3 separate regions of the Homo sapiens genome follow, and regions 1 and 2 are each linked to region 3. The links come from fine-mapping of genetic effects on gene expression. A gene starts in region 3. Each other region holds a variant in brackets. All regions are shown on one strand. Distances are from middle to middle.

Region 1 (8,169 bases), 22 kb before region 3:
ATTATTGTCTTAGGACCCATGCATCAGGGCAGCGAGTCTGCTCAGATCTCTTGCTGTATTGCGGAGGTAGGCCCTTCTCTCTCGACAGATCCTCATGTCCTCTAGGTGTTCCAGGACAGCCTCACACTGTCTCATGGGATATTCTTAGCCTTGCTGAATGTTGTTGGTATTTTAATTGAACTCTGGCAGGCTGCTTAGCACAACAGGAGGCAGACAGATAGGGAGGCCCCTGTGGGAGCCTGAGTAGATCATTGGTTTCCAGGCTGTTCTGATGCAGGTGGTACATACACCTCTCCATGACAATATCATTTCCTTTCTCTGTTTGACTGCCCATATTCTTTCCCCAGTGCAGCCTTTCAGGCTGTCTCATTACACCACTTGTGTCCCTATCTAAAACTCAAGTTTAAGGTTTTGTGGTGTCTTATTCCCTTGATGGCTAAGGTGGAAGTAAAAGGTCATTTTATTTTTTTTGCTTTTTTCTAAAATCCATTCTAGGGCTTTGTGAAGGATGTCCATGAAGACTCTGTCACCATCTTCTTTGAAAACAAGTAAGACCTTGGGAATAGAGAATCCAGCATACTAGGTCCTAGAAGGAGAGTGGAGAAGAGGGGGCAGCTGAGTCCTATGAGGCATGTAATAGGTTGGGAGAGCTGAGGGTTTGGGTGGGAACTCATATGGATCCCAGGAGAGGAAAGGGCTGAGAATTTGGTGAGGGTGGGGGCATTTGACCCAGTATTTAGAGTCTAGAAAGAGATGGAAGACACTACTATGGAGCAGGGCCTGGGGTTTAGCCTCTAATTATCCAGATAGGTGGAACTCGCCCAGCTGAGGCAATAACCCTTTTGTAAAGAAATGGGCAACCATATCAGTCAGAGTAGCTTTTTCATATTATTGTTTCTATTATAGCTGGCAGAGTGAGAGACAAATTCCTTTTGGGGATGTCCGGCTACCACCTCCAGCTGACTATAATAAGGAGATCACAGAAGGGGATGAAGTGGAGGTAAGGGCTGTGGAGTACACCTTTCTAAATGTCACTTTTCCCCAGGATTCTAGGCTTTTCTCTGGTTGGTTCATGTTCCTTCCTCCCCAACTAAGCCATATCCAGCCATGTAGCCTATGGAAATGTAAAATGCAACAGTTCCCCTTTTATCACTGTTGTGATCAGCCAAACTCTCAGGAACATCCCCAGTTTCAGGCGATTTGCCTTCCATTTATGGTAACAACATCTAAAATCCAGTGCCCTCTGATTTTTTTGTTGTTGTTGTTGTTGTTGTTTTGAGATGGAGTCTTGCTCTGTTGCCCAGGCTGGAGTGCAGTGGCGCGATCTCAGCTAACTGCAACCTCCGCCTCTTGGGTTCAAGCAATTCTTCCACCTCAGCCTCCCAAGTAGCTGGGATTACAAGCACCTGCCATCATGCTCGGGTAATTTTTGCATTTTTGTAAAGACATGGTTTCACCATGTTGGCCAGGCTAGTCTTGAATTTCTGACTTCAGGTGATCCACCCGCCTCAGCTTCCCAAAGTGCTGGGATTACAGGCATGAGCCACCATGCCCTGCCGTCCTCTGATTTTAATTAGTTCCTTCCTCTGGTTTCTTGTATCCTTGGTTTAAGATACATCCCAGGCTGGATGCAGTGGCTCACACCTGAAATCCCAGCACTTTGAGAGGTCGAGTGGGGCAGATCACCTGAGGTCAGGAGTTCAAGACCAGCCTGGCCAACATGATGAAACCCCATCTCTACTAAAAATACAAAAAATTAGCTGGGCGTGGTGGCGGGCGCCTATAATCCCAGCTACTTGGGAGGCTGAGGCAGGAGAATCGCTTGAACCCAGGAAGTGGAGGTTGCAGTGAGCTGAGATTGTGCCATTGCACTCCAGCCTGAGCACCAAGAGCGAAACTCTGTCTCAAAAAAAAAAAAAAAAAGATGCATCCCAAATACCTTTTTTTTCTTTTTGAGATGAAGTCTCACTCTGTTGCCCAAGCTGGAGTGCAGTGGCGCGGTCTCAGCTCACTGCAACCTCCACCTCCTGGTTCAAGTGATTCTCCTGCCTCAGCCTCCTGTGTAGCTTGGAGTACAGGCATGTGGCACCACACCCGGCTAATTTTTGTATTTTTAGTAGAGGTGGGGTTTTACCATGTTGGCCAGGCTGGTCTTGAACTCCTGACTTCAGGTGATCAGCCCACCTCAGCCAAAGTCCTGGGATTATGGGCATAAGCCACCGCGCTTGGCCTCTTTTTTTTTCGTGGAAGTGGGGTCTCACTGTGTTGCCCAGATCGTTCTTGAACTCCTGAGCTCAAGAGATCCTCCCACCTTGGCCTTCCAAAGTGCTGGGATTATAAGCTTGAGCCACTGTGCCCAGCAGCCCCAAATATCTTAATGGTTGTTCTATTGTTTATGTTGCCCAAGCTGGTCTTGAACTCCTGGGCATAAGCAGTCCTTTTGCCTCAGCCTCCCAAAGCGCTGAGATTACAGGTGTGAGCCCCACCATGCCCGGCCTCCTCATCCCTTTCTTGATGCTTTTGGGTGGTCTTCAATATCTCTTTGATTCTCTACTTTTCTTTAGGTTTATTCTCGAGCCAATGAACAGGAACCTTGTGGCTGGTGGCTGGCCCGGGTGCGGATGATGAAGGGAGATGTGAGTGACTGGGAATGCCTTTGGAGAACTACTGAAACAAATATGTTATTCATAGAAAGTTGCTCAGGTCATCCACAACTTCTCCTTTTTTACCATGTGCCAGTTCTATGTCATTGAATATGCTGCCTGTGATGCCACCTACAATGAAATTGTTACCCTGGAGCGACTTCGGCCAGTTAATCCCAATCCCCTTGCAACCAAAGGCAGCTTCTTCAAGGTTACCATGGCTGTGCCCGAGGATCTGAGAGAAGCGTGAGTGTTAAGGATGGTGGGAATGAGGGCCCTCTTTACAGCCCTAATCTCTGGCTTTATTTCTCCCAGGCATCACTCCCACTTTGCAGTTTTCTCTGTTGTTCCCCTGGCCCTCTACTAGAGCCCTTCTTGCTAAGAAGACACTTAGTTTCTTTATTTTCCCATCCTTGTTCTTTAACTGTGGTCCCTCTTCTTTTCTTTTCCTTTCTTTCTTTTTTTTTTTTTTTTGGAGACAGAGTTTTGCTCTTGTTGCCCAGGCTGGAGTGCAGTGGCACAATCTCGGCTCACCGCAACCTCCACCTCCTAGGTTCAGGCGATTCTCCTGCCTCAGCCTCCCGAGTAGCTGGGATTACAGGCATGCACCACCACACCCGGCTAATTTTGTATTTTTAGTAGAGACAGGGTTTCTCCATGTTGGTCAGGCTGGTCTCAAACTCCTGACCTCAAGTGATCCGCCTGCCTCAGCCTCCCAAAGTGCTGGGATTACAGGCGTGAGCCACCGCACCCGGCCCAGTCCCTTTTCTTTTCTTATTTACTCAGCCCTGCTTCTCTGAATTTTTTTTTTTTTTTTTAATAGAGACAGGGTCTCACTATGTTGCCCATGCTAGTCTTGAACTCCTGACTTCAAGTGATCATCCTGCCCTAGCCTCCCAAAGTGCTAGGATTACAGGTGCAAACCACCATGTCCAGCCTCCCCCGAACTCTTCACTGTACTCTCTGCATTCTGCCCGCTGAGTACTTTTTTCCTCTGCAGCTGCTCCAATGAAAACGTCCATAAAGAGTTCAAGAAAGCCCTGGGAGCCAACTGCATCTTTCTCAACATCACAAACAGTGAGCTCTTCATTCTGGTGAGTTTATTCTGCCTGAATTTCACATAAGCCTTTTGAACATTTTTTCTTTTTCCCTTTTTAACCCTTTTGCAGAAAGAGAAGGGCTTAAATGTGCTTATATTTATTTGTCAAGAGGACTTTATTGCTCCTGACTCCTACAGGCCCAGGTAGCCCTACCTTTTTTTTTTCTTTTTTTTGAGACGAAGTCTCACTCTTGTCACCCAGGCTGGAGAACAATGGCACGATCTCGGCTCACTGCAACCTCCACCTCCCGGGTTCAAGCAATTCTCCTGCCTCAGCCTCCTGAGTAGCTGGGATTACAGGTGTGCGTCACCACGCCGGCTAATTTTTTTTTTTTTGAGATGGAATCTCACTCTGTCGCCCAGGCTGGAGTGCAGTGGCGCGATCTCGGCTCACTGCAACCTCCACCTCCCAGATTGAAGCGATTCTCCTGCCTCAGCCTCCCGAGTAGCTGGGATTACAGGCGCCTGCCAT[T/C]GCGCCTGGCTAATTTTTTTTTGTGTTTTTAGTAGAGACAGGGTTTCACCATGTTGGCCAGGCTGGTCCTGAACTGCTGATCTCCTGATCCACCCGCCTCGGCCTCCCAAAGTGCTGGGATTACAGACGTGAGCCACCGCGCCCGACATGCCCGGCTAATTTTTGTATTTTTAGTAGAAACAGGGTTTCACCATATTGGTCAGGCTGGTCTTGAACTCCTGACGTCGTGATCCGCCCGCCTTGGCCTCCCAAAGTGCTGGGATCACAGGCGTGAGCCACCACGCCCGGCCTCTGACCCTTTTTTTTTAAACCTGATAATCATGTTGCCATCTGGGTTAGAGACCCTCTCTTGATATTTGGACTTTCAGAAATAGAGTATGTAGCTCTCACCTTATGCTTGCTCCTTGCTTTCTCTCTAAACCATTTTCCTTCAGTACCCTGATAGTCAGCCTTTGTGGGACTGACAATGAGTCTCCTCCTTCCTAGCTTCATTTCTTTTTTTTTTGAAAACAGAGTATTGTTCTGTCACCAGGCTAGAGTGCAGTGGCGCAGTCTCGGCTCACTGCAACCTCCGACTCCCGGGTTCAAGCGATTCTCCTGCCTCAGCCTCTGGAGTAGCTGGGATTATAGGCATGTGCCACCACGCCCAGCTAATTTTTGTATTTTTAGTAAAGACAGGGTTTCACCACGTTGGCCAGGATGGTCTCGATCTCATGACCTCGTGATCCGCCTGCCTTGGCCTCCCAAAGTCCTGGGATTGCAGGCATGAGCCACCGCGCCCGGTCTCCTAGCTTCATTTCTTAACCCTTTTCCCGGGACTTAGGCATCCTGATTTCTAGTCCCTGGCTCTCCCTTAGTGTTTATTCCAAGCCAGTTTTAATGACTTTCCCACTGGTTTCCTCCCAGTCAACCACAGAAGCCCCTGTGAAGCGAGCATCTCTGCTGGGTGATATGCATTTCCGAAGCCTGCGCACCAAACTGCTACTTATGTCCCGCAATGAAGAAGCTACCAAGCACCTAGAGGTAACTTTTAGCTCCTTTTCCTTCTGCTGAAGGGTATTGTCTTCCTCCCTTCCTACCCTGTCCTCCATCCATGATCTTGTGTTTACAGAACAAAGACTAAGGCTTTTTCTGGGCAATTAAACCTGGGTCAGCTATTTTATCTCAGACTCCTCCAGATGGCAGAGCTCTATCATGGTATAGTGCAATTATTTTCAAATTTCTTTTAGCCAATTTTTTTTTTTTTTTTTTGGGAGACAGAGTCTCGCTGTGTCGCCTAGGCTGGAGTGCAATGACACGATCTCGGCTCACTGCAACCCCTGCCTCCTGTGTTTAAGCGATTCTCATGCCTCAGCCTTCTGAGTAGCTGGGATTACAGGCGTGCGCCACCACACCCGGCTAAGTTTTGTATTATTAGTAAGATGGGGTTTTGCCATGTTGCCCAAGCTGGCCTCGAACTCCTGGCCTCATGTGATCCACCCGCCTCAGCCTCCCAAAGTGCTGGGATTACAGGCGTGAGCCACCACACCTGGCTGAATGGTTTTTTTTGAGACGGAGTCTCACTTTGTCACCCAGGCTGTAGTGTAATGGTATAGTCTCAGCTGACTGCAACATCCACCTTCTGGGTTCAAGCGATTCTCCCGCCTCAGCCTCCTGAGTAGCTGGGACTACAGGCTTGTGCCACCACACCCAGCTCATTTTTGTATTTTTAGTATTGATGGGGTTTCACCATGTTGACCAGGCTGGTCTCAAACTCCTGACCTCATGATCCACCTGCCTCGGCCTCCCAAAGTGCTGGGATTACAGACATGAGCCGCTGCGCCCGGCCTTGGTCTTGAACTTCTAGGCTCAAGAGATCCATCTGCCTGTACTTTGCAAAGTGCTAGGATTACAGGTGTGAGCCACCACATGCAGCCTAGACTAGAATATTTATTTTTTAGGGTGGGCGCGGTGGCTCACGCCTTTAATCGCAGCACTTTAGCACTTTGGGAGGCCGAGGCAGGCAGATCAATCCGAGGTTGGGAGTCGAGACTGGTGAAACCCCATCTTTACTAAGAAGACAAAAATCAGCTGGGCGTGGTGGCACATGCCTGTAATTTCAGCTACTCGAGAGACTGAGGCAGGAGAATCGCTTGAACCTGGGAAGTGGAGGTTGCAGTGAGCCAAGATTGCGCCATTGCACTTCAGCCTGGGTGACAAGAGTGAAACTCTGTCTCAAAGAAAAAAAGGATATGACTGGGCGCGGTGGCCCACGTCTGTAATCCCAGCACTTTGGGAGGCTGAGGCGGGCAGATCACCTGAGGTCGGGAGTTCAAGACCAGCCTGGCCAACATGGGTGAAACCCCGTCTCTACTAAAACTACAAAAATTAGCCAGGCGTGGTGGCAGGCGCCTGTTGTCCCAGCTACTCGGGAGGCTGAGGCAGGAGAATCGCTTGAACCTGGGAGGCGGAGGTTGCAGTGAGCCGAGATCACACCATTGTACTCCAGCCTGGGCAACAAGAGTGAAACTCCATCTCAAAGAAAAAAAGGATATTTCTTGTTTTTTTGTTTGTTTTTTGAGATAGCGTCTCTGTCGCCCAGGCTAGAGCGCAGTGGCGCTATCTTGGCTTACTGCAACCTCCACCTCCCAGATTGAAGCGATTCTCCTGCCTCAGCCTCCCAAGTAGCTGGGATTACAGGTGTGTGCCATCACACCTGGCTAATTTTTGTCTTTTTTAGTAGAGATGGGGTTTCACCATGTTGGCCAGGCTGATCTCAAACTATGGACCTCAGGTGATCCGCCCACCTCGACCTCCCAAAATGTTGGGATTACAGGTGTCAGCCACCACGCCTGGCCTGACTAGAGTATTTCTGTGAGATCTTTTTGAATTCTGACATCGTATAATTGTCAGATTCCCTTTCGTTGGTATTATACTATTCTAAGTGAATAGGGTGTGTGTGTTTGAATACCATTTCCATTTATCAAGGGAATTGATCTTTTTGGGAGGCTTTTTTCTGTGCCTGTGCAATTTCTGGGTCATGATAATCTTTGACTTCTTCAGGGATCCTGCTCAGGGCACTGGCAGGTAAAAATTCACCATTACCTTCAGATGATACAAACTTTATTTTTTGTTTTTGTTTTTTGTTTTGAGATGGAGTCTCAGTCTGTTATCCAGGCTGGAGTGTATGTAGTGGTGCGATCTCAGCTCACTGCAGTCTCTACCCCCCGAGCTCAAGTGATCCTCTCACCTCAGCCTTTGGGTGGGTGGGATTACAGGTGCATGCCACCATACCTGGCTATTTTTTTTTTTTTTTTGGAGACAGTTTCCCTCTGTCACCCAGGCTGGAGTGCAATGGCACAATCTCCGCTCCCTGCAACCTCTCGCTCCTGGGTTCAAGCGATTCTTGTGCCTCGGCCTCCCAGGTAGCTGGGATAATAGGCACGCGCCCCCACGTCTGGATAATTTTTGCTTTTTTAGTGTTTCACCATGTTGCCCAGGCTGGTTTTGAACTCCCGACCGCAGGTGATCCACCTGCCTTGGCCTCCCAAAGTACTGGGATTACAGGCATGAGCCACTATACCTGGCCCTAATTTCAGTATTTTTAGTAGAGACGGAGTTTCACCATGTTGGCTAGGCTGGTCGCGAACCCCTGGCCTCAAGGGATCCACTTGCCTTGGCCTCCCAAAGTGCTGGGATTATAGACATGACCCATTGCACCCGGCCTAATTTTTGTTGTTGTTTTTTAATTTTTTGAGACGGAGTCTCATTCTGTCGTCCAGGCTGGAGTGCAGTAGTGCGATCTCAGCTCACTGCAGCTTGTGTAGTTAGCGCAGAGTGAGCAAAGGGAGACCGATACAAAATTCGGTCAGAGAGTAGATCATGTAAGACATGTACGGTAGGCTGAGGAGGGGGGATTTTATTGTGCGTATACTGAGAAGCCATTGAGTTAACAGTGCCTTCTGGTTTTTTGTTTT
Region 2 (8,169 bases), 21 kb after region 3:
TTCCTGGCCATGCCTCCTCTGGATTCAGATGCAAATAAAGAAAAGAGGAAAAAACGCAAAACTCCTAACTTAAGATCTTCCCGGTTAACGCGGTCCACAAGGGGCCCTTCAGGGTCTGTGCCATCATCTCTCCCCAGTCCAGAGACAAGGGAAAATGGCTAAGCAGCAGGCCTCAGAGATCTTATTTCTAAGATCACCAGGCCAAACCCAATAGCACTGCCAGGTTCTACGTCTTTATTTTAATACCACCAGGGCTGTCCTTTGAGGGCCCAACAAGGGCAGTTTCTTTCCTCAGGGACATGATAACCGTGGTACTTGAGGAGAATGCAACTTGCACGTGGAAACTGGACTGGAATGGGAGACAGTTCTCTAACACCCTGGATGAACGGGGGGCATGGGAAGGCTGCGGTCATCTCAAGTGCAGATGCCAGGGATATGGTTCAGGGGGCAGAGGCTGATAAACGGGGAAGAACTTTGAAGGAAACTTAAAGAGAACCGAATCAAGACGCTGGGACAGAACGGAGCGCACAAGCCAGGCCGGCCCAGCCCCCTCCTACTTCATCCTCGGGGACCAGAATGCAACCCGGCACCAGTCCGGTCCCACGAGCTTGGATGGCTCGGCGCACACGGGCCTTAAGAAGCCCCTATGCGGGCCTCTGGGCCCCGGTTCGGTGGGAGCGAGGCCCAGGAATGGGAGAGGCCAAGGCAGGGCTGGGGGGAGGGGAGGGGGCGTCCTCACCGGGAGCGGGGAAGCCGGGCGGACGGGCCCGAAGGCGGGCGTCTCCGGCCTCAAGCTTCCCGGCTCATCTCTCCGGCGACGGCGGCGGCCCCGCCACTCCTGCTGTCTTTAGGCGCAGCCGTCTCAATTCAGGATTCCAACGCTTCTGGGCCGCGTGCCGCGCCGCCGAGCACCCCGCCGCGCCGCCTCTGGCTCTGCTTCAGCTTCAGCTTCCACCTCCACCTCCACCTCCGCCACCGCCGCCACCAGCGCCACCGCCGCCGCCGCCACTCCTCCCCCCCTCCTCCTTCCCCTCCCGCGAGCCCCGGGCCCACCGGCAGCGGTGGCGCACGATTAGTACGTCACACCCGGCGAAGAGCGCCGGCGCGGCCACCAAGCGCGCGGTCCCGTCTACCCGAGGACGCCGGCGCCACGGGACTGGCCAGCCCAGAGCGCTACGCGAGGCTGCGCCTGCGCACATCCGCCGCCCGGCCGCGCGTGGCGGCCCCGCCACTTTCCCTTTTGCGCCGCGCTCTGTCTTCTCCGCGCTCGCGGGCCTGACCCTAGCGGCATCCCCAGTACCTTGATCCGGCGGGGGGCGCGCCACAGGAGAGCCAGGAGGGCGGGAGATCCCCGTACGAGGACCGGGCTGAGGCGAGGCAGTGGGGGAAATGGAGCCGGGGTATCATTCATTCTATTTTATTTAACTTTAAGCAGGGCTTGATCAGAAAGAAGAGCTCAGAGGAGTGAGGCAACACCAACACCAGGGCGTACGATACACCCGAGGCTCCTCCGACACCAGTTCCAGCCCGGAAGGGCTTGGAATGGCCTGCCACGCCGGGGCAATGGAGCGCGTGAAAGCCAAACCTTGGGACCCGAAGAGTAATTTGACTGCGAAGGCACCGTCATCGTCGGGCACCCCCTGTAGACGGGCGCATAATAGCTACATCTCTGGAGATAGTGATGGAAACTGGGGTCCGATAGATGGAGAGAAGGACGTAGGATAAGGCTTCTTGTGGGGTGAAGAGGCAGAGGGCACCTGGAGAGAGGTGTGGCATGGAGAACCAGGGGTTTTCCCTAGCAGAGGGCGGCTTCGTGGACTTCGGCCAACCGGCGGGTGCTTCCCTCGAGCGGCCGCTAGATGGTGGTGCTGTTCTGGATGCTTCCAGTGGGCCCCGACCAGGTCTGGACAATGCCTGGCGCCCGTCCCCCGCCCCTCATCTACACACACGCAAGAATTCGGAGCTCCATGGGGAACAGAAGCAAGATATCCGTAAAATCAAAGTCTAGGGGGTGGGAATGAAAAGGGAAAAGTGAGGAACGGGGAGCCAAACCCAGGAAGACGCCTCTGTTCCTGCACATTCCCTCTCCTTTATATACTCAGCTCTTGGCTGTCTCCAGTATGTACCCACCCTGGTCTTCCAAGCTGGGAGCCACTTTTTATAACACAATCACAGTTTCACAAACCCCAGGAAGGTTCCATGTGGAGAGAGGTTAAGTTTCGCCCTTGCCCGGGGAATTATGACACTCAGAATATCCCCTTGGTGTAAATGGAAGACACCTGAGAAAAGAGAGAAAGTAGATTCGCAGTGAAGCACAGCCATCCAGATGCCCTGTTTCCCCCTGCCTTCTCCAGCTCCACCGTTCCTCTGCCTCCTGTAAGGACCCGGCATTCTGCACTTCACTCCTCAGACCCGCCTCTGTTTAGGTTTCCAACCTCCCTCCTAGCGGTAGCTCCCTGCACTGCTACCCCCGGTCAGAGACGTCCTGCTTTCGGCTGCCCACACGGCTCTCACCTGCGCTATAGCAGCTGTTGTAGGCCCGGTCCGGGTGGGAGGGCATACTTCTTATACATCGGAATAGAGTCTCCTGCCTTCCTTGGCCTTCTCGAGACACCACCTGACCCATGGTGAAAGTCACGTCTTGAAACAGGACCTGGCAGGGAAGGGAGATGTTGAAGAAAACAGGATGGCCTGGCTCAGTTCTGGGAGGCCTCAGGAGCGCTAACGAGGGAAGAAAGAAGGGTCTGCTGGGTTTGGTATGAATAGAGGGGTCAGGAACCCTCAGTAGGGGGCCAAAGAGGCCCTCTGTGAAGCTCAGAGTGTGGCTGGGGTTACCTGGCTATACAGCAGATAAACTCCAGCATCCTGGATTCGGACACCATATCCTTGGGCCTGTAGGCCTCTCCCACGCCTAAGAGCTGGTTGCCACATCACCTCTGTCACATCGGAGTCATCTGGAGGTGAGAGTGTGTCGGTCAGGACTTCTTGGCACTCTCAGGTGCTTTTTGGTTCTTTCCCTTTCACCTATAAGGACCCCTTGAGCCCAAGTGCCAGCCCGAGTTCCTGGTTATTGCCCCTCCCCAAAGCCATTATTTAAAATAGTGCTCACCCTTGGAGGTGGCGTTAATGGGAACCAGGTGCAGGACAGAGTGCTGCTCTGAGGAGAGAAGGAGGGAATCTCAGCCGCATCCACTTTCCCCCGTTGTGCTGTTGGCAGCCTCCACCCTCACCCTGACTCGGGCTTACAATCCCCACGCTGCTTGATCACCTCCCACCCCTGCTGCACCCTGGAAGCCTCACTCTTCTGTTTTTGGGTGAGCACTGCTCTCCTTTTCCGGGATCTCTCCCCATTCTCCCAGGCTTCCAGGGCATCGGAACTCTGCTCATGGAAAGAGGGTCAAGGTTAGGTTAAGATGCGAGGGTCCCAGCCAGCCTGCCTTCCCAGCCCTCCCCTGCCCCCGAGATGCCTCAGATCTCTCACGCACCTTTTCCCAGCACCCTGAGTGTTGGTGCTGGCTGCCCTCCAGGATTTGTTAGGTATGAGAAGCATTAACCTTTAACAGTTTCCTTTCCTGGAATGGCCGCGCCCCTGACTTCCAAACCGGAGACCCTCTCTTGCACCCCCTTGAAACTTTGCAGACCAGGAGGCCCAGAGACCCCCCATGCTAACCATCCTCTCCCAGACACCCTCCTCCCCTCACTCACCTGCTCCGGGAGACTCTGCCAGGGATACCCTTCCCCATTCTGGGAGGGGCCTCCTGTCC[C/T]CTGCAGCCGGCTCACCTCTCTCCTGAGGCTCTGCAGCTCTGTTTGTTGGGTCAGCAGAGCCATGGCACAAGCCACGGCCCCCAGAGCTGCCCCCCAACTCAACCAGAGGGCAACTGAGAGTGCCGGCTCTCTGACTGGGCCCCCCATGTTGCCTGGAGGCCCTTTGGGGGCTAGCAAGAAAGGAGATGAGGCTGGCATGAGCTGGGGACCCTGCCAACAGCTGTGGTTTCAAGAGTGGGGTAGCAAGGAGGTGGCGGGGCGGGTAAGGGTACGGGCAGTGGTGCAGAAGGGAAGAAGGTTGTTACGCAAGGAGAAATAAAAAGGAACTTGAAAATAAAAAGGAGGGAGGAGGAAAGCAAGCTAAGGGTACTGTTAGTGCTCCTGGCACTCCGTCGTGGGGCCAGCGTTGCCTTGAGACCCTCCACCCTCCCTCAGCCTCAGGAGAATTAGGTTCCAGTCCCTCTAGGAAGGACAGGGCTGCCAGTGACACCCAGGAGGAACAGGCAGTGCGCAGGAACCCTGGGGCGGCCCCAGGGTTGGGGGAGGGAAGGTTGGCTGGCTAGAGGGCATTGTGCCAGGAGCAGGATGGGGGGCCAAGCTGGGCAGTGTCCAGGGTCAGGGCGAGGGTGGAAGACCCTCGGGGTCAAGCACAGCAGAGATCGCTGGGGCAGTTCACTAGGGGTGACTGAAGGTGGGAAAGGAGGGGTGGGCTCGATGGGGAGGAGAACCAGGGGCACGGAAGCAAGAAACTGGCTGAGTTCTGGGGTTAAGGCTGGGCCGGGTGTGTTGGAATAAGGCCTGCACTACTCCCTGTGCTGAAATTGGCAAGCAGGACTTCCTGTTTCCCGAGAAAAGCTCTTACATAAGGCTCTGGACGAAGAGACAAAGCAGCGGCCTCAAGCCCCCCGGCCACTGCGGGATTCCTCCCCAGCACACAGGGTTCCGGGTTCCCGTGTGCCTGCTGACTCTCAGCCCCTCCTCCAGGCTGGCTCCTGCCCGCCCCACCTCCCAGCCAGGGCCTGTGCCAGCACCTGCTGAATGTCCGAGGCCACCAAGAGGAAGGGCCCCTGCTCCTCCCAGCCAGGAAGGGATTTCCCCGCAGGAGGAAGTCTGCCTCCTAGGCCAAGGAGGCCGCTTCTGCTGTACCTTGGGCGGAGGATTGATTTTTTTCCTGGGCAGTGTGCCTTCCTACCTCTGCTCCCACCTGGGGGCTGGAGGCATGGAGGTCCCCGCCCCCAAGCCTGAACATCATCCCGGAGTTCCAGCTGTGCCGCTCCGCAACGCCCCCCTTCACGTGGCCCCCAGCTACCCTGAGAGTGTCCCCTGAGCCCCAATAAAGAGAGAGACTATGACTTATTCTATTTAATATCCATTTATCAACATTTTGTCACAATAATAATAAAAATAATATCTGTTTTAAAAATCCACAGGGAATTCTCAAGGGAGGAGCTTGTCTTGTTTCTCGCCCCTCACATTTGGGAACTCCTGGCCTAGGCCCAGTCTCTTTGGCTTCCTGCCGCCAGGTCCAGCCCCTCTTAGTGCCTGAAGTGGGGTCTTCTGGACCCATCCTTGCCCACAGAGTACAGTGAACACAATGCCCTGGGGGTCTGTGGCCAGGGGGGAGTCGAGATCACTGGGGGCCTCAAAGGGTCAGGGATTGGGGAGCTAGTGAGGTGGAGAGTGGGCGGTGGGGGAGTTGTAAGATAAGAGTGGGAATACTGTATTTATGTGGGATGGAAAACACGTGAACAGGCCCAGGCAGCCTCTAGAGGGAGGGGCAGGTCTGGAGCAAAGAGCGGCTGAGGGTGGGGCAGAGGGGACCGGGTGCCCAGAGAGCTGTCGAGGGGAGCCGGCAGCCTGGGACGACTGCGGGGAGACCAGGGCCCCTCAGTGAACCTGGAAGAGTCCGAAGTAGGTGAGGAAGGGGGCAGCCTTGAGATGGGCCCAGGGGAGGGTGCGGATCCGCAGGGAGGACCCTGGCCGCAGGGCCAACAGCCCAGACACCTGGCAGAGGCGGAGCTGGGGCCCGAGGGAACTCGCCGCAGTGGCTGAGAATTCCTCCAGGCAGCGCAGGGCCAGCACACCATCCACCAGCAAGTCCAGCTTCAGGTAGACAGCCTTCCCCTCATCAAAGTGCACCTGGGGTGGGGACAACAGGCCGAGTCCAGGCCTCTGCCTGCCCTCGCCTCAATTTCCAATTTCCTCAGCGACGCAGGCATCCCATCCCACCCAAACCCCAACTCACCCTCCCAGCCCTGTAGCTTGTCCCCCACTCTCCTGGCAAACCCTTCGCCACTCTCTTACTGCGTTACCCATGCAGCCAGATGGGGCTTACCTGACAGTACAGGTAGTAGAGCCCAGCCCGGGTGACTATAAACTCCCCGATCTGGCGGTTGTAGCGCAGAGGGCTGGAGCTGTTGATTCTGGCTTCCTCCCAGCCACTCACTGTCCCGTCCACACCTGAACACGGATGCTCAGAGATAAGGAAACGTCTCTCTACAGGACTCCCCCACACTCCCCAGGGATCCATTGAGCATATGAACATTCGGCGCCCACTTTACCCAGAAGACACATAGATCACCCCGGGCAAGGGAGGACCCATCCCCTATGATGCCCATAGTTGACTAGGAAGTTATGTGAAAAAATCTAATGTATATGGCCAGAGACATTCAGGGCAGATTGTCACCTGCAGTCACTTCTGGGGAGAAGAGTAGAACTGAAGGAGAAGCGTGAGGGGATTTAATGTTTTACTTCATGGATATCTATATTATTTGCTTCTTTTATATGGAGGATGTAAACATACATTATCTGAATTAGTACAACTAAAAATAATAAAATGAAACCCAATTGTCCATCAACAAAATGTCTATCCATATAATGGAATATTATTTGGCCATAAAAAGAGTGAAGTACTGATACACACTATGGCACAGATGTGCCTTGAAAACATCATGCTCAGCCAGGTGCAGTGGCTCACGCCTGTCATCCCGGCATTTTGAGAGGCCAAGGTGGGCGGATCACCTGAGGTCGGGAGTTCGAGACCAGCCTGGCCAACAAGGTGAAACCCCGTCTCTACTAAAAATACAAAAACTAGCAGGGCATGGTGGCAGGCACCTGTAATCCTAGCTACATGGGAGGCTGAGGCAGGAGAATTACTTGAACCTGGGATGGGGAGGTTGCAGTGAACCAAGATCATGCCACTGCACTCCAGCCTGGGCAACAGAGCTAGACTCTGTCTCCAAAAAAAAAAAAAAACAAAAAAAACGCTCACTGGGCATTTTTATTTCCACCAATGGGTTCCCACAACCTGTGCTCTGCAGAGTCTCCAGCCCTGAAGTTTCCTTCCCTTCCTTACCCTGCCAACTGCACCATCTGAACAGCAATAGCCCCTCAAACTCATCTCAACCAACACTGAGCTGACCCCCCTCATCCCACTCTTGCTTTACTGTCTGTTTTCCACATTTGGCTTCTGGTTTTGCCACCAGGGGGATATTCAAGCCTCCCTCTCCTTTACCTACATCATTAATCGATCACCAGTTCCTATCTATCCTGCCTCCTAAATAGCTCTCTCCCCTCTCTCCCCCATCTGGTGCCTCTGTCTGGTTTTCACAGCATTCCCTGTTTCCATTCTGGCTTCCTCCAGTTTATTCCCTACACAAAGCCACAGAATGAGTCTCTAAGATGCAGACGTAAGCCCGCCTCGCCTCGCCTTCCTCCTTCCGATGGCTCACCTCAGAATAGTTCCCACATGCCACCGTGTGGCCTGGCTTCTGTCTCCAGCCTCATCCCCATCTCGCTCCTCTAGCACTTTCTGCTTCTGCCACGCTGAACTTAGAGTCCCCCAGCCTCATCATGCTCTGGGCAAACCCGGGGCTTTTGCCCCAGGGGCTGCTTCTGCTTGCACCCACCATTCTTGACCCCTTGCCTGTCTTGTCTTACGCTCCTGCTTCAAGGCCCAGCGGCACCTTGCGATGCAGGGAGAGAATCCCTGACTCCACAGCCATGTCTGTCTTCCCCTGTGTTGCCAGGTATCTTGGCCACTTTTATTATTGTTCTTGTCATATTCCACTGTAATTACAAATTTTTTTTTGAGATGGAGTCTCACTCTTGTCACCCAGGCTGGAGTGCAGTGGCACAATCTCGGCTCACTGCAGCCTCCGCCTCCCGGGTTCAAGTGATTCTCATGCTTCAGCCTCCTGAGTAGCTGGGATTACAGGCATGTGCCACCAAACCTGGCTAATTTTTTTTGTATGTTCCTGTAATTACAAATTTATATGCTTGTTTCCTCTCCTAGACAGTGACTCCTTAAGAGTTGGTCTGAGGCTGGGCACAGTGGCTCACGCCTGTAATCCCAGCACCTTGGGAGGCCAAGGTGGGTGGATCACGAGGTCAGGAGATCGAGAC
Region 3 (8,169 bases):
CATGATTTGACTTAATTTTTATTTTGTTTTATAAAAGTTGACTCTTCGTTTTTCATTGTCGCTACAGCACAAACTCCACAAAGAAGTAATTCCACCCGGTGACTTCCCCACTGGCACTAATATGGTGTCCTCCCTCTAAGGAGCCCGAGACACTTCCGCCCTTCTCAGAAGTGACTTCCGTCCAGCTCGGCATGGCGGCAGTCACTGCCGTCACTTAGTCGCCGATCAAGGCTTGGACTAAGGGCCCACGGTCACTCGAGTAGGACTTGGATCGGATGCTGAATAAAACTCACCGTGAAGCAAGTCCCACTGAACGAAAAGTTGGTCGTAGCATTTCTCAGGTAAAAGAATCGGCACGAGCAGCCGTTTAAGCGGTCCGTCCGCCTCGGCCGCCATATTGCAAAGCTAGCTTCCGCCAGTCTCTCCAGACCGCCATTGACTTTCGTTGCGCGTGCGCGCTGCGGACACTCCGCCTCCCGTTCTTTTCCCGCGGCGAAGCTGGCCCGCCCCGTGCCCCGCTCTTTCTGACGCTACCCACCCTCACTCTAGTGGCGTAAAATAAGTCTCAGTCAGGGACCACGTTTTGGACGCGCTGTTGGAATTGTAAAGCTTGCCGAAGCTGCACGCCTGCGCGGTTAGACCTCCCACGCCTTTGTTGACGCTTCCAGTTTGGAAGCCAGATTTACACCCCTGCCTTTCTCCGCTCCTCCTGCTGGGCGCCATCTTGTCTTCTCCTAGCACACTTTGTATTGTTCGAAGTTGAGAGAGAAGGAGCCGGAGTCTCCGAGGTGGCGTTGGGTGGGGGCGCTACTAGCTCCCGTTCTCTCAGCGTCTCTAGAGGGAAGGGCGCCGGTGGGAGCAGGAGAGTCTGCACCGGGCAGGCCTCCTTAGGTGCCGGGTTGCGCGCAGGGCCCTGTGCTTGTCTCGCCTCCGGTTGGCTCAGGCCTCGGAGCATGAGTGCGCCGGCAACTGCTGGGCCCGGGACAGTGAAGCAGAGGAGGAGGTGGGGGAGGCGAGCCCAGGTCGGGGAAGGGCAGCACCTGAATCACCCTTGGGGCCCAGACCCCCAAGAGTCTCCGGGGAGCCGAGGCCTGGCGAGGCAGTCCCGGGATTCGCCCCCTCCCCGCTGGCCCGAGGGCGCACCACGTGCTGGGCAGAGACTTCGGCGAGGCCGAGTGGACCCTGCAGCGCTGCTTGGGAAAGGGCACCTTGGACTACCTGGTGGGGGCGTTGTGCTTCGTTACCGACCGCCGGGACGCCAACCCACGGTGCCCACCCGTGCGTCATTCCGCTGTGGATCAGCCCTTTGGCGGCCCCCCTCCAAAGTCTACAAGGTCACACGGATGTCTGCAGGCAGAGGTGGGGCTGCTGGGGCCCTGCCAGGTGAGGGCTGCCCTTGTGGGGCAGTCTCTGGGCCTTGGAGGCCGGAAGCCTCCTGGGGCTCCTACGGCTGGGGGGTGCTGCTCATCCTGGCTCCCAGGGATTGCGCCGTAGCCAGCTGTAATGGGTGGGACTGGCGCTCACTGCTGGTGCAGGCTGTGGCCATCTGGGAGGTCCTTTCTGGAATCTGGACCTTGGCTGTCCTGAGAGTGACACTCCTCATCTCAAGTACTGGGGGCATGAAGTTAGGCTTGGCAGGTGGCCCCGTGTGGGGGGCATGCTGTTCCCAGGAGCCCCCAGTGGAGGTCAGAGTACCCACTGCTCCTTCTTGATTCAACCCCTTGTAGGTGGGATAGGAGCATGCCAGGTGCTGCGAGGGTTTAATCGGGCTCTTCTGCTGGCCTTGAATATGGTGGACAGGACAGGACATTCTCATTGCTCAGGAGCCACTGGCGCTGCCTTTGGGAATGAAGTTCCACAGCCCCCCACTCATTGCTTTGGCTGTCTGCTGCATTTGAAACTGTACGAGGGTCAGGAAGAAGGCTGCGGGGATGAATGGCTCTACCGGCTTGCCACGGATGGGGAACTGGAGCAGCCAGTGGCCCCAAGAGGAGGAAGGAAGGGAGGCACGGCAGACCCAACACCAGCTGTGCCAGGCTTTGGGGGGTGAACCCATGAGGCATCGTCACACACTGACATTTTCATCCCTCCTCAGCAGCTGCTTCCGGCTCCCTGAGACCCAGCCATGGAAGGCATAGAAAGGCATGTGACAAGAAACTCATGGCTTTTAATCCTGGCAGGACAAGGAAAACCCCGTCAAAGATTTGCATAAATTTTGCTGCTCTCCTGCTGGGGGGGGGGGGGGGGCAGTTCGTCACATTTAATAAAATTCTCTCCCTCCCTTCTCCCGACTGCATTATCTCATATTTATTTATTTGAGACAGTCTGGCTCTGTCGCCCAGGCTGGAGTGCAGTGGCGCGATCTTGGCTTAGTGGCGCGATGACGGCTCACTGCAACCTCCACCTCCTGGGTTCAAGCAGTTCTGCCTCAGCCTCCCAAGTAGCTGGGATTACAGGCCAGCTGGGATTACGCCGCCACACCTGGCTAATTGTATTTTTAGTAGAGACAGGGTTTCACCATGTTGGCCAGGCTGGTCTCAAACTCCTGACCTCCAGTGATCCACCTGCCTCAGCCTCCCAAAGTGCTGGGATTACAGGCATGAGCCGTCATGCCCGGCTTTCTTTTTGTTCTTCAAGAAAGGGAAGGAAAATAACATTGTCTTTGAGCCAGTTGCGTGTCGAGGAAATAAGGGTACCCCCCCACCACACCCCAACCCCCTCAGTGCCCTGGGGTTTGAAGCAAATGCTCAGAGGGCCTGGTAGGCGGATGGGCGTCTCCGGATGATGCAGAAAGCAATAAGCACCAGGGCGAGGAGGCCAAGAAGGATCAGGCCGATGATGAGAGGCAGCAAGATGGACCGGTCACTGGGGCAGGAGAAACCTGGCGGAAGGATAGGGCAGGTAGGTATTTGCAGTGACGTGCTGGTTGGGATAAAGGTGGGAGGAGGGAATGGGGGGATGCTGGGGAGTAGGAGATTGGTGAGGAGCTCACCGCAGTGACTCAGCAGTGATAAAAGGGGGAAACTGGCAGAGTCTTGTAGAGGATGGAAAGAAAGCTGCCCTGTAGCCATGACAAGCTGGGAGAGCGAGATTTGGGGGGTTAAGAAGAGAGATGAGTGGCTTATGGGCCTGGGGAAGGGGTTTTCAGTGCAGTGGGAGGATTCTAGGAGGGAAGGAGTAGGTAGGTCTTACTTTGCCCAAAGACCCCTGTGTGGGGCAGCTGAGCAGCCTGGAGCCTCAGGGAGAGCAGGTCGAGGTGGACAGCTGGTGAAAGAATGATGCTCGAGTTGCTGCAACTGAAGCTCTGCCCCAGGGGTGCTTGGAGATCTCGAAGGGATGCATTCTGAGCCGAGAATGTCCACTCTGGAGGAGTGAGGAAGGGTCAGATCCTATCCACCTCCCTGGCCCCAGCTTAGTCCTTTCAGGAACCCTGGCGTCTAGTGGTAGCAATGAGAAAGGGAAGGAGGTTACTTACGTGCTGCGTGGGGGAAGGACACATTGTACTCCACCGCCATGTAGCTCAGGTAGACAACCTTCTGCTGGAGGTCCTGTGGGGCGAAGAGGAAGGCGCAGGTGGTATCCCTCTCCACAGAGGAAGGAGTAGCGTGTGGGATTGGGAGGGGAGGGGCGCCGGGAGGCTGAGTGAGGGGTGAGACTGAGGTCATGGCTATACCTGCATGAATCCAAAGCTGAGGTGTCCATAGGGGAATGAGAGAAGCAGGTGGGGATGGGCACCCTCACAGCTTCCCTGGACCTTGGTTTTGTTGGGGTTCAGTACAGAGATGCCCCAGGCCTGCGGAAGTTAAAGACTGGAAGGTCACAAGACTGCATGCGATGCCGGCCAAGGTTCCCTGTCCCCTCTTCCTTCTTCCCTCTGAGCCTATATCCAGTCCTGCCTCCCTCCCCTCTCATCCCCCAGTTTTAGCTTTACCTCTCCTCCACCCTGGGTTGTGTACATGACTCGAATCTGAATCTGGGCTTGGAGGTGGACACAGGGCTGGGAACCATTGGTCCACGTGTAGTCTCCAATGGTCTCCTTGGAGGTTGGGCTAGGACTCGGAGAGGGTGGAGGTGGTTCTGGGTGGGCAGAACTGGTGAATCCTGGGCTGGTGGCAGTGCTGTTGCTTGTTGGATGAACCGTGGCATTTCCATGACTAGTGGTGGCAGGACTGTGAGTGGCAGTTGAGGGTCCCTGGCTGGTGGCAGTGCTATTGCTTGTTGGATGAACTGTGACGTTTCCATGGCTGGTGGTGGTGGGGTTGTGAGTGGCAGTCGTGGGTCCGTGGCTGGTGGTGCCTGTGGTGGTTGTCCTGTGAGTGGTGGTTTTGTGGCTCTTGGTAGTCCTGTGGCTGGTTGTTCCAGTGCTCTCTGTAACCGTGGGTGTCACCGTGAAGGATGGCAGCAAAGTAGCTGATTTTTTGTGAGGACAGTCATTCCCTGTCCCCTGGGCTTTTGGCAGAGAGGAGATGGTTAGCAACCCAGGGCAGGCTCCCTCCCAGGGGCCCCCTCCCCTCAGCCTCCTTCCTCCTTACCTGCCAGTAGCCCCAGCAGGGCCCCCGAGAAAAGCACAGCCAGCCTCATGGCTGAACCGCCTCACCCAAAGTCCAGCTAGGCTGTCTGCACCAGTTGCTCAACCCTGCTCCCTCAGCCCTCTCTTGGAAAGGAGGAAATGAAAGTCTCACTTCCTGTACTGGAGATGATCCCACCCACAGCCTGACTCAGGGGCCTCAGCTCTAGCCACCTCTCTCTTAGTCATTAGTTTTTGTAATTAAGTTAGGGGACTGTTGGCCCTGCTTCATCAGGGCAAAGTCAACAGTGTCACATGGGTGCAAACGGAGTCCTAGGGCAGTTGATCCACAGGGATCCATGTGTCAAACTCAGCGAAACTTGCTTGGCAGTTGTGGCAAGTAGCTATGGGAACAGCTGAGGTACAGGCCCCTCCCTTGGTGGGGAAATCGGTTTCCACTCCTTTCCCCTGGACCTCTGGGCTGACCCCTGTACTACTTCCTCTTGGCTGAGGCATGTGAGGGGCTTGTGACCATCCACACCCAGCCCTTTACAGAGGGGCAGCACTCCAGTCAGCATTGTCATTCACAGAGCCGAGAACATGGCTTTCCAGCGTCTGAGAACTCAGATGGTGACAAGAAAGCAACAGCCCAAAGGTAACCATCTGCTGGGGAAGGGGGGAGCAGAGATGCACCCAGTAGCAGGTGGGAGAGGGAAGGGGAGGTAAGAAATGAGAAGCCCAAACAGGCAGTTTCCAAGTCATTTTATTCAGAATTTTGTGTTTGTTTCCTGAATCAATAAATACTATACAAAACAATGTAAAAATGGCTACCATTTTCTCTCCCCTGCTTCCCCCCACCTGGGGACAACCCCCTGGGCAACCTCACTTAGGGGTTTTAGGGGTTCTCCCTCCAGATTTGGTCCAGCAAATGAGGCTGAGTGACATAGTCCCTTGAATCACTTTCAAAGGAGCTCAGCTGAGGTGAGGAGAGCCTCTGGGATCTGGAGGTTACTAGGTTAGGGAAATGGATTAGTGTTTTTTTTTTTTTTTTGGGAGAAGAGCCGGCGCCTGGGGCAAGAGCCTACCCCAAAGAAAAGGGTGTCTAAAATGTTCACGGTTCCTTCTTTTGCCTCAAAAAGTGACATTTATTCAAAGAAAAAAAATGACAAGATGTCCATCCCTTGGCTCCCTTCCCTCCCCCCTCCTGCTGCTCCTCAGCCCCCAGAGATTGAGCCCTGGCTGGGGCTGGGTGGCAGGACAGCCCCTCAGATGAGGTCAGCAACATTGAGGGGCATTTCCTCAATGGAGGTGTTGTAGAAGGTCTCAATGTCTCGAAGAGTCCTCTTGTCTTCTTCTGTCACCATGTTAATAGCCACACCTTTACGGCCAAACCGTCCACCTCGACCGATTCTGGAAAACAAGGAAGGGGATGAGGAATATCAGGAGCTTTAAGCCCAGGGAGGGCCAGGTGTGAAGGGGTAGGGGAGTGTTCCAGATCTACGCTTACCTGTGGATATAGTTTTCCCTGTTGGTGGGAAGGTCATAGTTGATGACTAAAGAAACCTGCTGCACATCAATGCCTCTGGCCTACGTCAAGAAAGACAACTCTTCAGCATGTGCACGGAGGACACTCTATCCCGGAGGGAAGACACTTAGGCATCCATGTGGGCAGCCAAGGAAGGCAGAGGAAATAAGCATCCCAGTTCCCCAAAGGCCTTAGGCATGCCAGATTCTATTCCAAGCTGCTACTTTCCTGAGAGGCACTGATGTCCCCTTGGAGAGGGAATCACCTTGGATCCTCCCTTCTGCCTTTGCTATCAGTTCCCTCTACTCACCAGCAGGTCAGTGGTAATCAAAACTCTGCTAGAGCCAGAACGAAACTCCCTCATAATCACGTCTCGTTCCTTTTGGTCCATATCTCCATGCTGGAAGAGAAAACAAATATGCAGCAGACCAGGTAGGCACCTGGGTTCCAGGAACCCTGGCTTCAAGTAGGACACTTCTGACGGGCAGACCCACAACAGGCTGGCAGCGGGCAAACACACCATGGCGGATACAGTGAAATCTCGAGCATGCATCTTCTCGGTGAGCCAGTCCACCTTCCTCCGGGTGTTGATGAAGATGACTGCCTGGGTGATGGTCAGGGTTTCATACAAGTCACATAGTGTGTCCAGCTTCCACTCCTGGAGGTTGGGGGACAAAAATCAGTCAGGGGCTATACCCAACAACTCACTACCAGGCCCGCCTCCTGCACTGGGCCCCACCTCTCGTTCCACGTTGATGTAGAACTGGCGGATACCCTCCAGGGTCAACTCTTCCTTCTTGACAAGAATCCGAATGGGGTCCCTCATGAACTTCTTGGTCACCTCAAGCACATCAGAAGGCATTGTGGCTGACAGCAAAACTACCTAGTGGAAAAAAAGGCCAGTCTTAGAGTGCTGGTTCCTTCCTGAGGCCTGCTCCCTTCCCTAGCCACACCTAAAACTGAAGCAGATGCATAAAAAGGCTCAAGAATCCAGTATATGGTTCCCCTGGCACTTACTATTTTTCAAGAATCATTAGCTATTCAAGCAAGACTGCCCTCACCTGGGTGTTGCTGTTGAGCTTTTGGAATATGTCATAGATCTGGTCCTTGAATCCACGGCTTAACATTTCGTCAGCTTCATCCAGTACAAACATCTTGATGTATTTGGGGGCTAGAGAAGAAAAAAAAAGCCAATATATAGCATATGATTAGGGAAATGTGGGAGAGATATATCCAACTTCGCTGATAAAAAACAGAGAGGAGCCAAGTAGTCTGCTCTCAGAGTACAAAGACTGATCCTTTGCCCAGGACCTTCCCGCCAGGCAGACAACAGCCCTGGGAAGTAGGACACTGCCAGGGCTGCACTGGCAGGGAAGCCAGAGGCTCAGATGACACGCATGGGCTCCATCACAGAGCAGCTCTTCCCCCAGAGAGAAACCAGCATCCTTGGGAATGACTCTGGCTTACGCTGAAAGACTGGAAAGCGTGCACAAGAGCAAAGTGACCCAGGGGATTGGAGAACCGAATTACTCACACAGGTATCTCCGGTTAAGCATATCAAACACACGGCCAGGGGTACCCACGATGATGTGGGGAGCTTCCATCTGCAGTTTCTGCACCTCAGCACGCACGTTGGTGCCCCCGATACAGGCGTGACAGGAGGCGCCCATGTAGTCTCCTAGTGCCATGACCACCTTCTGTATCTGAGCAGAGAGAGGCAGGTGCTCATATGTCAGTTACCACTGTGCCCGGCACCATTCTTAAATGTTTTTCATGTATTGATTCCTAACCAACAACTTTGGGGCATGCACTATTATTAAACTCACATTCAGCTGAGAAACAGGCAGAGGCTAAAATCCACTTAAGATCGTGCTGTCAATAGGTGGCAAAGACAGGATTTCAACTCAGTCTGGTTCCTGAGTGTACAGTGATTCACAATGAGGCCGCTCAGATAATTAATTCAGTTTCTTTACTCTAGATATTTAGAACCCTTAACCTTCTGAAAACTAATTTGACCAACTGCCTCATCACGCAGCAACCATTTTTTTTTTCTTTTTTTGAGACAGAGCTTTGCTCGTTGCCCAGGCTGGAGTGCAATGGCACAATCTCAGCTCACTGCAACCTCCACCTCCTGGGT

What was found. PIP is the estimated chance that this variant, and not a neighbour inherited with it, causes the effect.
Region 1: its variant is fine-mapped to the expression of CD68 in whole blood (TOPMed, PIP above 0.99). The same link has a PIP of 0.9 or more in blood mononuclear cells.
Region 2: its variant is fine-mapped to the expression of CD68 in whole blood (TOPMed, PIP above 0.99).

The regions. Positions count from the first base shown.
Region 1 is chr17:7,598,476-7,606,644 of GRCh38, reverse strand. FXR2 (FMR1 autosomal homolog 2) reads left to right here. Exons shown (of 17, transcript NM_004860.4): 2 at 496-548; 3 at 907-1,000; 4 at 2,565-2,636; 5 at 2,740-2,888; 6 at 3,643-3,736; 7 at 5,120-5,236. Among named protein-coding and RNA genes, the nearest start is that of FXR2, 12 kb to the left of the region's middle. The variant T/C (reference allele first, on the strand shown) is at 4,214.
Region 2 is chr17:7,554,834-7,563,002 of GRCh38, reverse strand. TNFSF12-TNFSF13 (TNFSF12-TNFSF13 readthrough) reads right to left here. Exons shown (of 11, transcript NM_172089.4): 6 at 6,101-6,225; 7 at 3,301-3,379; 8 at 3,110-3,157; 9 at 2,836-2,954; 10 at 2,515-2,653; 11 at 1,402-2,279. The coding sequence ends at 2,170. It overlaps TNFSF12 (TNF superfamily member 12), which reads right to left. Exons shown (of 7, transcript NM_003809.3): 6 at 6,101-6,225; 7 at 5,122-5,904. The coding sequence ends at 5,653. It overlaps TNFSF13 (TNF superfamily member 13), which reads right to left and starts at 4,253. Exons shown (of 6, transcript NM_003808.4): 1 at 3,706-4,253; 2 at 3,301-3,379; 3 at 3,110-3,157; 4 at 2,836-2,954; 5 at 2,515-2,653; 6 at 1,402-2,279. The coding sequence starts at 3,963. The coding sequence ends at 2,170. SENP3 (SUMO specific peptidase 3) reads right to left here and starts at 1,084. Exons shown (of 11, transcript NM_015670.6): 1 at 740-1,084. It also overlaps SENP3-EIF4A1. RefSeq lists enhancers at 1-314, 1,581-1,830, 4,205-4,254, 5,065-5,124, 4,710-5,503 and 1 more and a silencer at 941-1,020. The variant C/T (reference allele first, on the strand shown) is at 3,765.
Region 3 is chr17:7,576,090-7,584,258 of GRCh38, reverse strand. It overlaps CD68 (CD68 molecule), which reads right to left and starts at 4,621. Exons shown (of 6, transcript NM_001251.3): 1 at 4,533-4,621; 2 at 3,932-4,449; 3 at 3,674-3,793; 4 at 3,476-3,548; 5 at 3,193-3,363; 6 at 2,148-2,881. The coding sequence starts at 4,581. The coding sequence ends at 2,748. EIF4A1 (eukaryotic translation initiation factor 4A1) reads right to left here. Exons shown (of 11, transcript NM_001416.4): 5 at 7,567-7,735; 6 at 7,094-7,203; 7 at 6,772-6,915; 8 at 6,553-6,690; 9 at 6,343-6,432; 10 at 6,015-6,094; 11 at 5,253-5,917. The coding sequence ends at 5,773. It overlaps MPDU1 (mannose-P-dolichol utilization defect 1), which reads right to left and starts at 407. Exons shown (of 7, transcript NM_004870.4): 1 at 294-407. The coding sequence starts at 396. It overlaps SENP3-EIF4A1 (SENP3-EIF4A1 readthrough (NMD candidate)), which reads right to left. Exons shown (of 22, transcript NR_037926.1): 16 at 7,567-7,735; 17 at 7,094-7,203; 18 at 6,772-6,915; 19 at 6,553-6,690; 20 at 6,343-6,432; 21 at 6,015-6,094; 22 at 5,253-5,917. It also overlaps SNORD10, SNORA67 and MPDU1-AS1. RefSeq lists enhancers at 69-598, 1-709, 709-758, 710-1,583, 3,727-3,796 and 1 more and a silencer at 5,432-5,620.